Linked DNA regions of Homo sapiens: all the other regions are reported to be linked to region 1. Evidence: microRNA targets listed by miRTarBase, many of them from high-throughput screens and not tested one by one. Region 1 holds a microRNA gene; each other region holds the end of a gene's coding sequence.

Region 1 (4,065 bases):
CGACGTGGGGGAGGCGACGTGGGGGAGGCGACGTGGGGGAGGCGACGTGGGGGAGGCGACGGGCCGCTCCTTACTGCACAGAGGCCAAGCTGGATGGAAGATCGAGGCAACTGTACAGAAAAATCCAGCACAAAAGACCCGCGCGCCCCAGTTATCTGGGCGTTGCCGACACTCAGCTCCAATTCAAAAGGGAGGTGATGAAGCCGCTCGCTGCGTGCAAGACAGAGCCCGCCCTGAAGCAGCCGGGACAGCAGCACCCGGAGCGTGGAGGCCGCGGGCCTGTGACTGGCGCAGCCCCAGTCCTGGGAGGCGGCCCCTTTCTTAGGAAAAGTGAGGAGCAGGAAGCTGCATTCTGTCCCCCGGGGCCTCGGTCAAAGCCACCAGAGCCCTGAGGCCACACCGAGAAACACAGATGCCCCGTCCGGCCGGGGCAGCCCCGCAACCTGTGCCCAGACAGCTCTCGGGGCACACCGGGGTGCCAGACTTGGTCGGCAGCTCCTCCTGCTGTGCCCAGGGCGGGGGATACCATGGGGGGCTCTGCTCAGTGCTCTGAGGGGCAGGCGTGGTGCCTCCCTCGAGCTGGGCTGCAGTCTCCTGGTCTGGCCACAGCCCGGCGCCGGTCAGCCTTGCCAGGGGGGGTCTACCCTTGTTGCCTCTCTGTGCTGAGCCGCCGGTGCCCGGCCCGTAGATGACTTACTGATTGAGGGCGCCAGGCACTCTGTCAGCTGTACAGGGACCTCAGCCCCACGCCGGCCGCATGGCCGCATGGCCGCAGGCTGCCCTGGCTCTCCCAGGCTCCACCAGCCTGTGCACCACCCCTTCATCCATGTGGGGGAGCGGTCATGGGGCCACAGCACCTGCTGTCCTGGGGCGTTGGGAGAATTCAGCGGCCACCAGGGCAGCGAGCCAGGCAGGCAGCTCTTCAGTAAACGCCAGGGCTGTCGCGCTGACCCTCCCCAGTCCCGGCGCCCTCCGTCGGAGCACGGCAGGGGTCGCCTGTGCATGCACGTGGTGGGGAGGGCTCCGCGTGTGGAGGCCCAGCTGCCTTCCCGCAGTCTGCTCGCCCACCGCTCTCGCCCATCTCTAGCCTGGGGGTCTCCTCACCATGCACCTTGGGGGCCTGTTTGCAGCAGCAGACAGGAGCTGCCTGGAGCCCAGGCCCCACAGCAGCGGGCACGGGCAGGAGTGGCCCCAGGGATGCCGACCCAGGGGAGGGCCAGGCAGGAGGCCAGGGTGAAAGAGAAAGAGCGGCGTGGCGTCATCATACACCACGGCCTGACCCCGCAGGCCAGGTCCAAAGTCTAACACACGCCCCACATACCCGGCACAGCAGACCCCACGCCTGCCCCGCGGCTCTGCCTCCCTCCCCATAGCCAGAGCCACGGCCGCCACCCCCGGTAGTCCCAGGCCAGTCCCTGGGGATCCCGGGAGTGTGGCCCGAGGCTGCCGGGAGCTGCAGACTGGAGAGGCCATCCCGAGGTCTGAAACTCGGCCTGGTGCTCAAAAAGCAGGGGCCGAGAGTCCTCTGCCCTCTGGAAAACGAGAAAGGGAACGACAATCCTTTCTACATTTTTCTGTTTAAGTTTTTTGAGACACCGTCTAGCGTCTCACTGTGTCGCCCAAGCTGGAGTGCGGTGGCACGATCGCAGCTCATTGCAGCCTGGACCCTCCCAAGCTCAGGGTTTGTATTTTTATTTTGAGACAGAGTCTCACTCTGTCGCCCACACTGGAGTGCAGTGGTGCAATCTTGGCTCACTGCAACCTCCGCCTCCCAAGTTCAAGCGATTCTCCTGCTTCAGCCTCCCTAGTAGCTAGGATTATAGGTGCCCGTCACCACGCCCAGCTAATTTTTGTTTTAGTAGAGATGGGGTTTCACCATGTTGGCCAGGCTGGTCTTGAACTCCTGACCTCAGGTGATCTACCCGCCTCGGCCTCCCAAAGTGCTGGGATTACAGGCGTGAGCTACTGCGCCTGGCCAAATTTTTTTTTTCTAATTAACCAGCTATGGTGGTGCACGCCTGTAGTTCCAGCTACTTGGGAGGCTGAGATGGGAGGTTCTCTTGAACCCAGGAAGTAGAAGCTGCAGTGAGCTGTGATCACACCACTGTACTCCAGCCTGGGTGACAGAGTAAGACCCTGTCTCTAAATAAATAAATAAGTGAATGAATGAAAAAAAGACAGGCACGGGTGGATGAGACAGGGAGAGAGGCCCCACATGGCTGGCCACCAGGGAAACGCAGATCAAAGCCAAGGGGACACCAGCTCCCACCCCCTGGGACGGCCAGAATCACAAGGACAGACAACGGCAGGAGCTGTCGAGGGAGTGGAGACGCCAGGACCCTCCCCAGCGTTGCCGGTGGGAACTAGGTAATGCAGCCGCTGCGGAAGATGGCTTGGCAGTTCCTCAAGACATTATGAAAGTTCACCACACGCCCCAGCAATCCCACTCCTAGGTATCTATGCAAGATAAATGAAAACAGGTCCACGCAAAACCTCGTAAACAATGTTCACAGCATTGTCCACAGAAGCCACGTGGAAGCAGTCCTAGCGTCCATGAATAGATAAAATGCGGTTCATCCCGCAAAGGAGCAGTGAATGAAACTGCCTCGGGCTGCAGGTGCATGAATCTGGAGGGCACGGTGCCGAGTGAAGAGGCCAGACACGGGGCCCCACGTCCTGTGGCCCCACGTCCACGCACCTTCTGCACAAGGCAAACCCAGCCAGCCACGTCCTGTGGCCCCACATCCACGCACCTTCTGCACAAGGCAAACCCAGCCAGCCACGTCCTGTGGCCCCACATCCACGCACCTTCTGCACAAGGCAAACCCAGCCAGCCACGTCCTGTGGCCCCACATCCACGCACCTTCTGCACAAGGCAAACCCAGCCAGCCACGTCCTGTGGCCCCACATCCACGCACCTTCTGCACAAGGCAAACCAAGACAGGAAGCCGGTCAGTGGCCGTCTGGGGCTGAGGGTCCCTCTGGGCTGCGGGATGCTGTAACACTGGACTGTGGGGCTGGGGGTCCCTGTGGGCTGTGGAATGCTGCAACGCTGGATTGCAATGACGGCTGCACAACTCTACAAACCACTAAGAGTGACCAAACTGCACTCTTTTAACAGGTGAGTCTGGTAAGTTCTACCTCAACAAAGCTGTTGTCGGCACACGTGGAGATGCTCACTGGGAGGCGGCTGGTGCGGTAACACCAGGAACTGGGAGGCGCTCCGGTGCCACCACACGCAGGAGGAGCACAGACCCTTCCTCTGCCGACCACCAGGCCCCACACGGCCCCTCCCCGGCCCTGCCTTTGCCGCGTCTCTCTGTCCATCAGGGTAACTCGCAGACAGGGCTCCAGGGCTCCCCCACACGGCCCCTCCCCGGCCCTGCCTCTGCCGCGTCTCCCTGTTCATCGGGGTAACTCGCAGACAGGGCTCCAGGGCTCCCCCACACAGCCCCTGGCTAATCCCCTGCATCCCCAGTCCTTGTCGGCCGGAGCTCAGGCCTCAGCGTGGATGCCACCTGGAGGCTGGTTCCCAGGCCTGGCCACCTGCCATGGCCTTGCCCACTGCCTGCAGCTCCACGCCCGTCCCTCCCACCTGGGGGCCAACAGACAGCAGGACATCGTCCCCCGTGGGAGCTGCCGCCAGGTGCAGCCTGGCAGGCCCTTTTGAGTGTGAGACGCAGGCACATTGCCTTCAGAAGCCAGGCCTGGACCCGCTGTGAGAGCAACGGCGGCCACTGCAGCACTGGCCCCGAGGCCCCGGGCCCCTGAGTGTCCCTGCCTCCAGTGAGGGCCAGGACGGGGTGACGGCAGGAGCATCGGTGGGGTCCAGCCAGTCCAGACCTCACCACCTGGACTGCCTCCAGACCAGGCACCTCAGAACCTGATGGCAGCTCCTGAGGGACGCAGCGGGTAGCCAAGGCCATGGTGACAGCTGTGAGGAGCCAGCACGTGGAGTTCGGCCACCAAGCCATGTGGCCTGTGACCCCCGGGGGGGCAGCAGGCGGAGCCCAGCGAGTGCTGGCAGCTTTGAAACCGTGGGCAGCAGGCAATATGCCCAGAGCC
Region 2 (4,062 bases), not on the chromosome of region 1:
AGGCACACCCCCTATTAGGGCGGAGACAGCCTGTGGCCTGCCGGCTTCTCATCAGTCACTGTGGAGAGACCAGGGTGCCCACCCGAGGCCAGCCAAAGGCGTACTCCGCTGCTTGGAGCCCCTCGGAAGCTCTAGGGGACGTGGTCCTTGTCAGGGGTCTGGCCAGGGACGGGCCCGGTGCTGGGTGGAGCAAGCTGGGCTGGGGTCCAGGGGTCTGGGGCCACCCTCTGCTGGCCGAGGCCAGACCTGGACATGCAGGAGCTACAGCCCTGGGCATCCTGGGAGGGGACTTGTCCGGGGAGCTGGAGTGCAGGGGGGATGGTGGGGCTCATACACTGCCCTCCCCCAGCCCCCCCGGCACCCATGCAGAGCATCTCCAGCGGCATCAGGGAGACAGTGAGCCCCCAGGACATCGTGCAGGACGCCATCCACAACTTCTCCCCCGCCTACCAGCACTACACGCAGCAGGCCACGCACGAGGCGCCCAGGCCCGGCACCCACCCCAGCGGCGGCTCCGGCGGGAGCAGGAAGAGCCGGAGCCTGGAGAAGCGGATGCTGATCCCCTCGGAGGACCTGTAGGGGGGCCTGGGCTGCCAGTGCTGTAGGGACCCAGGCTGCCCAGGCCTCTGGGGAAGAACAGGGTCCCCCCACCCACCAACTCCTGCCAAAGGTGGGGCCTCTCCTGAGAGCCCACCTGTGAGGCCCTCGGAGCCCACTTCCCATCCTCCCTCCAGCCAGGGGGTCAGGGCACCTGATGGCCCTGGCAGGCACCCAGGTGGGCCCGCCACCGCAGGAGAGGGCACCTGAGCCAATCGGAAGAGCCTGGGGACCCCCTGGGATCACCCAGCCATCAGCCCCAGGAGCCACTGTGGGGCGGAGAGTGAGTGTGGCTGCGGGGCCTTGGCTGCACGGACCCCATGGGAGCTGTGAGTGGGTCAGACTCCCTGGTTCAGGAGACAGACAGCGGACGGATCCCAGGCTGGGCAGCTGGAGGGAGGGGCGCCGGGGCGCTGGGCAGCCGGGCTCTGACACAGTCAGCAGCTCCGGGCGCCGCAGGCCGGCGGGGTCCACACAGGCTGGCCGGGGCTGGGCCTCCTTGGAGCCTGCTACGGCCCTCGTGGGCACGTGGAGAAGGGCCCACGTGTCTCCACACGCCAGCCACAGGGGAGCCCTGGCCAGGCGCCCAGCCAGGGGAGCGTGTGCCTGGGATGGGTCACAGAACCAGCGGGCACCTGTGAGGCTGGCCAGCACCGTGGGGCTGTGGGAATCGCTCTTATTTATATTTAAACACCTTGGATTTTCTACCGGGTCTTGGCTTCTGTTCCCGCAGGGCATGAGCCTGAGGAGCAGGACGCGGTGGGGGTCACAGGAGGCTGCTGCTCAGAGTCTGCATGCGGGAAAGGGGTCCCACCTGTCTGGGGTGGGCAGCCTCGTGGTCCAGGGCAGTGCAGGGCAGAGCCTGGGCTGTGCGATCACAGCCACTGCCTTTCTCCTGGGAGCCTCCACTTCCTCCAAAACGGGCCTTGTGCCAGCCCCACCCGCGGCGAGCGGACAAGGCCACGAAGGCAGGGCCCTGAGTACCTGGGCGGGGGGGACACTCCCAGGGGGCACAGAGGGGGCTCCCACCTGGGCACCTGCCTCCTGCCCTTCTCTTCTTCCTCCACGTGCCAGGTGGGGCCCTGGGTTTGAGGAGCCTCGGACGCGTGCCCTGCCCGCAGGAAGCTGGAGGCGTGCAAGTGGCCTCGGAAATCGCGGCCGCAAGAACAGTAGCCGCCCAGGGACTAAGGGGGCTTCTGGGAGGACACACGGCTGGCCCAGGGCGAGGGGTGTCACTGCAGGGCGCCCCCCAGGCCCAGGGCCCGTCAGGGGACAGTACGGTGACCCGGCCTGCAGGTGGCAGTCAGTTCTGTGTGTCTGGGGCCCGCAGCACAGGTTGGGTGGGGGCTGGGGCAGGGGCAGCAGAAGTGGGCAAGGCCTGGGGGGCTCAGGCACTGGGCGTGGAGAGCAGACAGGAAGCTCCAGTGGGCACCACCCCGGGACCGCGGCTCCCACCCGTGCTGCCCCCCACCCATGGCCACGGTCACCAGGAACAGCGGGACCTGGGGTCTCCGAGGGACTCAGCAGGGCGGGCACAGACCAGTGGAGTCCGGGCTAGAGAGGGCCAGCTCCCAGCCTCTTGCTTCCTGGGCTGAGGACATGGGGATCCAAGGCCAGTGGGTCTGCAGGGCCCAGCCCGGCTGCCTGATAAGATAGGCTGAGCTCCTCCCTGCACGGCTGCAAAGACGCCCACCTGTCTTATTGGATCCCCACAGGAATAGACCCACCAGGCGGCCCCCGTGTCTCACTCTGTCAGCAGGTCCCCAGGGACCTGCTGCCGAGGGGCAGTTTCTGGAGGCTGGGGGCACTGGCTGGGCTCTAGGCCTGCTCTGCCCTTGCCGTGGGGAAGGCCACCCCGATAGGGGTCAAGTTGCTCAAATCTGCGTTTGGAGGGTGTGTGGCCGAGGGCTCCCTTTCTGGAGACCCAGACACCGCCTGGGCTCCGGGCGGCAGAGGCTGAGGTGTCAGGGGCTGAGCCCCTATGTCAGCAACACCTCAGGCCTGCACTTTAGGACAGGGGAGAAGTCAGTTTCCGCCAAATGCCCCCTCAGACCAGCCGAGGACTGTGCCAGGAAACTGACATGCTCAACGCTCAAGCCAGCTGGGACAGCGACCGAGCCCAGAGAGACGGAGCAAGTTGCCTGAGGTCACAGAGCAGGGACTTGGACACCAGGCAGCCGGCTCCACAGAGGCCCTCTCTCCTCCCTGCCTCCTGACCCTCAGACGCCTCCGCCCCACGGGTGAGGCTGCTTCTGCTTCTTTCCAACACGACTCGAAGGAAAGCCCTGAGGGCCGAGCCCGCTCTGCGTGGACGGAAGGCAGCGTGGGGCGGTCCAGGCCGGGGCTCAACCTGCCTCGAGGGGGAGCGTGGGCGCATGTGAGCGGGAGGGACGGAGACTAGCGTGGTTCCAGTGTCGTCATCGCTGCTAAAAAAGGGGTTTCCCGGTGACAGGCCCCGACAGAGGAGCAGGCCATGAGGCAGGCAGGAGCCGCGTATCTGGGCCCAGCGCACCCGCCAAGCTCTCTAGCCTCTCCTGGCCTCAGTATCCTTCTCTGGGAGATGGTCCAGCTGAAAATCCCCAGCATCCACAAGAAACGGTGGAAGCCCTGGGGGCCCTGGCCTGGCCCGGGTGCAGGCTGCATGGCCGGGCGGGGCGGTGTCTCCTTTCACAGCTTCCCCGTCTGTCCGCAGCCTCCAGGAGCCCCACACAGGGCTGGGGCTCTGTGCCCCCAACTCACACCCGTCGGCTCCCCCAGGAGGAGCAGGCTGGGCCCAGAGCCGCAGGGTGGGCTGCAGGGAGGTCTGACTTAGCTGGGGAAAGTGCCATCCCTGCCATTGCTAGTGACAAGCTCGGGCTGCTGTGGCCCCAGCACAGATTCAACACTCACTGCGCTATGTGCCAGCTGTTGCACACTCACCTCCACACCCAACTCACAGGAAGCAAGGCTGGGAAGGAGGGAACTGGCCCCAGGCCACACAGATGCTGCGAGTTGGGATTATGATCGGGTGCAGTGGCTCACACCTGTAATTCCAGCACTTGGGGAGGCCAAGGCGAGTGGATTGCTTGAGCCCAGGAGTCTGAGACCAGCCTGGGCAACATGGTGAAACCCCATCTCTACAAAAAAAAAATACAAAAATTAGCTGGGCGTGGTGGTGCGTGCCGGCGGTCCCAGCTACTCAGGAGGCTGAGATGGGAGGATTGCTTGAGCCTGGGAGGTCGAGGCTGCAGTGAACTGTGATCACGCCCCTGCACTCCAGCTTGGGTGACAAAGCAAGATACTGTCTCAAAAAACTCGAGTTGGGATTTCACCCTGCGTGGTCCAGCACTGAACAGCGTTCACACCTCGGTCAGCTCAGCCCCAAAAACGGGGAAGGCCGGGCGGGGTGGGGACGGCATGCGGGCAGGCCCGTGGCTTTTCGGAGGAGTCCACGGGCTTCCGGCCACTGTGCAGGGGCGCTTTGCT
Region 3 (4,062 bases), not on the chromosome of region 1:
ACTAGCGGGCTCCCCACCTGCAAGAGGAAGGGGCACCTTGGCTGTATTTCTCTTTTGTCCAACAAACCCTAACTCAGCCTCAGGTGATCCCTTGATGGGGGAGATGGCCATGGGCACCCCCACCCAAGCAAGGGACCCAGGTGTCTCCTCGGGGCCCATTGGACTGGGGCATGGAGAACAGAGTCCCGGCTGTGTGAGCAGCCCAAGGAAGGCAGCATTCCAACCTCTTCTTCCCTGGGAACGGTCCACAGTGCCTCACTCGCATGTCCTCTCCTCCCCACAGTGGACAGACGGTCCACCCCCCGTGCAGTTCCAAGCTCAGAATGGACCCAACACCAGCCTGGCCAGCCTCCTGTGAGGCCTTGATGGGGCCATCCAGCTCCGCAGGGCCTGCGCGTCTCCGGCTTCCACCCAGACGGCACTCAAGCCTGCCCCCGAGGCGTGCTTCCTTCCTGATTGTCTCTAGAGCTTCCAAGTCCTGGGAATGTGCGGGGCCAGTCCCTGCCCTCCCAGGAGGGGTGGTAGCCGTTCCCACCTCGCAGCAGGACCCCCAGTGCAGAGGCTCACAGGTGGCACACAGGCGCTGTCTCTCCAGAGCCATCCTTCAGAGTGGACCTCAGTGCCAGTCCTGCCTCAGCATCTGGGTCACGTCGGCCAGGAGTAGGGTGCAGGCCTCCAGCAGGTCCTAATCCTGTGTGCCAGGGCAGGCAGTGCCCCAGGGGCACCACGCCTGACTCTCCATCACCCAGGCCTTGATGCCGAGCGGGAGTAGAGTGTTTCCTCTGCTCAAGGCAATTTCCAGAGCCCGGATGCCAGTTTCTGGCCTGAATTTGGAGGGAAGAAGTAATGGCGCTAGTGTGGGACGAAGCACAGATCCCAGCACTTTTCCCAGCTTTCTCTCCAGCATCAGTCCCTGCAGCAGCTGGGGCCTCTGGTCAGGAACCCTCAGGGACCCAGGAACTCAGCTTCCAAACATCTGCACCTTGACCGGACTCGCCATCCCGCCGTGGGGGTGCAGGTGATTGTAAACACGGGTGTGCATGTGGATGCACACGGGTGTGCGGTGAAGATCTGTGGAGATGGAGCTGGGAGCTGAGGCTCCTGTTGCACCAGCCACCTTCCCCCATCTTGTGGCTGCTGAGGGGCAGGAAGCGGGGGAGTGGGCTCGTCTCCTAAATTTAAGATCACCTCCTCAGCTAGCTTAGAGTGCGTGGCACGGGCCCCCCGCCCCCGAGATCTGGAGCCCAGGGACTTTCTTCCTGGCAGATCTGTGGCCTTCCCTGCTCAGCCTCTTGGTCCCCCCACTCCCTCCACCGCCTCACCTTCCCTGCTGGGTCTCTGGGGCACAGTGTGAAACCCGCACCCTAGCCAGGCCCCAGGGAGCCTCCGCTGGGCCCAGACAGCAGCGTTTGGTTTTATCCACTTTTCTTGGATAATCAGGAGGTGCCCCAGTGGTCACAGTGTGGCATTCCGAGTTGGGGCGGGTGGTCGGGTCAAGATAGCAGCAGCAGGTGTCAGGGCTCAAGACACCACCCCCTCCAGCTTCTGGGGCCCAGGAGCCTCTCCCTGCTACAGGGGGTGGGGGTCCTGCTCAGCAGGGTAGGTGGTGGTTTTAGGTCTTGTCACCCTCACTCAGTGGAACTGCCTCTGGGAGCTTTGGCGTCTGTGACTAAAGGGACGCTGGATTGCTCAGGTCAGCTGCTTGGGGCTCCCAGGCTGGGTGTGCCTTAGCCACAGGCAGGGCTGTCAATAACCCCCTTCCTCACTGGCCACCACCTGACATCAGCACCAGTGACAGGCTGGTCAGAGGGCGGGGCTGGTGAGGGTTTGTCCTAAGAGGACCACCGCCATCTCTGGGTCTCCAGGGGGAGAGCCTGGCCCTGTCCTTTGCTACCCAGGGCTGCCCCCAGGCCCATGAAGCCAATAGGAGAGCGTGTGGCACTGGCCCACAAACTGTCCCTGTCCTGTCTTCCTCCCGAGCCATGGCCTCTGCTAGCTCCACCTTGAAGGAGCCCCCCACATCCTCCCCTACATCCCAGAGATGCCACCACTTGTGTCTCCACAATGTGCTCCTGCCCACCCGGGTTCCGCACTGTCCGACCCCTGCACACCACTCATGTCACCACGGCGTGCATCATGTTCATCCCCATCTATTTATTTAAGCCTTTCTTTGCTTGTAGGGCATTTTGTATGTAGAGCAGTTGAAAACAGAACCTCAGAACTTAACATCTGTCCTGATGTTAAAGTGCTTTTCATGACCACCCTGTTATCTATGTATATGTAAAGTTAAGGATGAGATCTTAAGTTTACAATTAAAAACTCAGTACTCAATATTTAATATTCTACTCGAGCTTTATGGAAGCCAAATCATGTGCATGTGTGTGTGTGCGTGTGTGCAAGCTTTGAACCTCCTTCCACAGCCGCATCTTCTCATGACACAAAGCTTTTGATAAGTACTTTCCTGTGGGTCGCTCAGCGCCTCATAGCATCTCATTCAATTGCAAGAATAGAGGCCAGACACGGTGGCGCATGCCTGTAGTCCCAGCTAACTGGGAGGCTGAGGCAGGAGGATCACTTGAGCCCAGGAGATTGAGGCTGCAGTGAGCATGATCGCGACACTGCACTCCAGCCTGGGTGACGGTGAGACTTTGTCTCAAAAAAAAAAAAAAAAACAATGGAAGGCAGACAGCAAGTCCCTGAGGACACATCACACAGTGTCCTGTAGCTAAGTGTCTAGGAAAAAACAAAAACTCCAAACCCTTCAGTGGATGAGGACAAGGTCGCAGAAAGGCATTCTGTTGACAGATGAACAGCCGAAAGCTGGCCAGACCCTCCTGTATGCCTCTGCCCTTGTCCTGTGGGTTGAGGGGGTCTGACCAGGAGGCCACCTACAGCAGGAAGTGAGGCTGCCATGTTTCCTTGAGACACAGCTGCCTCTCCCCAGCTCTGTCCCTGTAGTCACCTGCCGGTGGGCGAGGATCCTCTCCCTGGGATAAGCACTCCCAGCCCCGTTTATCAGAAACACAGGCAAGGAAATTGGAACTGCCACCCAGCCCAGCATGGTGGCTCAATTGGTTGGTTGCGTTGTCAGTTGTCTCTTCGTTTTGTTAAGGTTTTTAATAAGTACGTTTGGCATAATGTCTTTTAATGGGTTTGTAATATTTGTAACGGTTTTAGCAGCCTATAACTTTTCAGCTGGTGCTTTTACTTAGGGAAAAAAACAATTTGTAAATACAGAACATTGTTTAAAAGACATAACCATAGAACATAGCTTCCTGTTTGTGGATTTTGTTTCCTATATATTCAAAGTAAAATGACTTACAGGAGCCACGTGCTGTGTCTTTGTTGTTTCCTCTGTCCGCTTTGTGAGCCATCCCAAAGACGGCTGCCACCCTTGCTGCCATGCCCACAGGGGCCCCCTCTGTGGCGGGGTCTTCAGCATGAGGATGCAGTCCCCAAATCCTGAGCCAGATGACGTGAATGGAAGCCTGAGTCCCCATCTCCTCCACTGATCATTTTCCTCTGGTCTGGCCTCGCCTAGAGAGGAAGGAACCCCATGCTCCATCAGCATATGAGGCCTTCAGCAGCCTGCTCCTGGAATCCTCCCTTCCCAGCCCTCTCAGGGGCAGACTCCCTCATGCACCCAGGTGTCCTGGTCCCTGTGTTTTTTTTTGTTGTTGTTGTTGTTTGAGATGGAGTCTTGCACTGTCGCCCAGGCTGGAGTGCAGAGGCGCGATCTCTGCTCACTGCAACCTCCACCTCCCAGGTTCAAGCGATACTCCTGCCTCAGCCTCCCAAGTAGCTGGGATTACAGGTGCCCGCCACCAAGCCCAGCTAATTTTTTGTATTTTTAGTAGGAACAGCATTTCACTGTGTTGGCCAGGCTGGTCTTGAACTCCTGACCTCGTGATCCACCTGCCTTGGCATCCCAAAGTGCTGGGATTACAGGCCTGAGCCACCGCGCCCAGCCGGTCCCTGCATTCTTAGAGGGGACCAGCCTCCATACACCTGGGAGTGAGGGGAGTTATTTGCCCAGATTTTTTTGTTTGGAGGTGAAATTAC

What was found. The annotated mature microRNA hsa-miR-3176 reads ACUGGCCUGGGACUACCGG and lies in region 1 at 1,395-1,413, opposite strand. An mRNA with a match to its seed (bases 2 to 7 or 8) in the 3' UTR can be bound and repressed. Matches are read on the target gene's strand: a 7mer-m8 pairs with bases 2 to 8, a 7mer-A1 pairs with bases 2 to 7 and ends in A, and an 8mer does both.
Region 2: the mRNA of TMEM184A is a reported target of hsa-miR-3176. Seed matches in the 3' UTR shown: 7mer-m8 at 2,208-2,214.
Region 3: the mRNA of MAU2 is a reported target of hsa-miR-3176. Seed matches in the 3' UTR shown: 8mer at 2,511-2,518 and 7mer-A1 at 2,823-2,829.

Annotation. Positions count from the first base shown.
Region 1 is chr16:540,684-544,748 of GRCh38, reverse strand. MIR3176 (microRNA 3176) reads right to left here and starts at 1,472; the gene lies at 1,383-1,472. The region is part of intron 3 of CAPN15 (calpain 15); the gene reads right to left.
Region 2 is chr7:1,543,469-1,547,530 of GRCh38, reverse strand. TMEM184A (transmembrane protein 184A) reads left to right here. Exons shown (of 9, transcript NM_001097620.2): 9 at 350-4,062. The coding sequence ends at 579. Among named protein-coding and RNA genes, the nearest start is that of TMEM184A, 11 kb to the left of the region's middle. RefSeq lists an enhancer at 2,962-3,111.
Region 3 is chr19:19,355,425-19,359,486 of GRCh38, forward strand. It overlaps MAU2 (MAU2 sister chromatid cohesion factor), which reads left to right. Exons shown (of 19, transcript NM_015329.4): 19 at 284-3,330. The coding sequence ends at 358. It overlaps LOC124904656 (a long non-coding RNA gene), which reads right to left. Exons shown (of 2, transcript XR_007067163.1): 2 at 3,287-3,537. Among named protein-coding and RNA genes, the nearest start is that of MAU2, 37 kb to the left of the region's middle.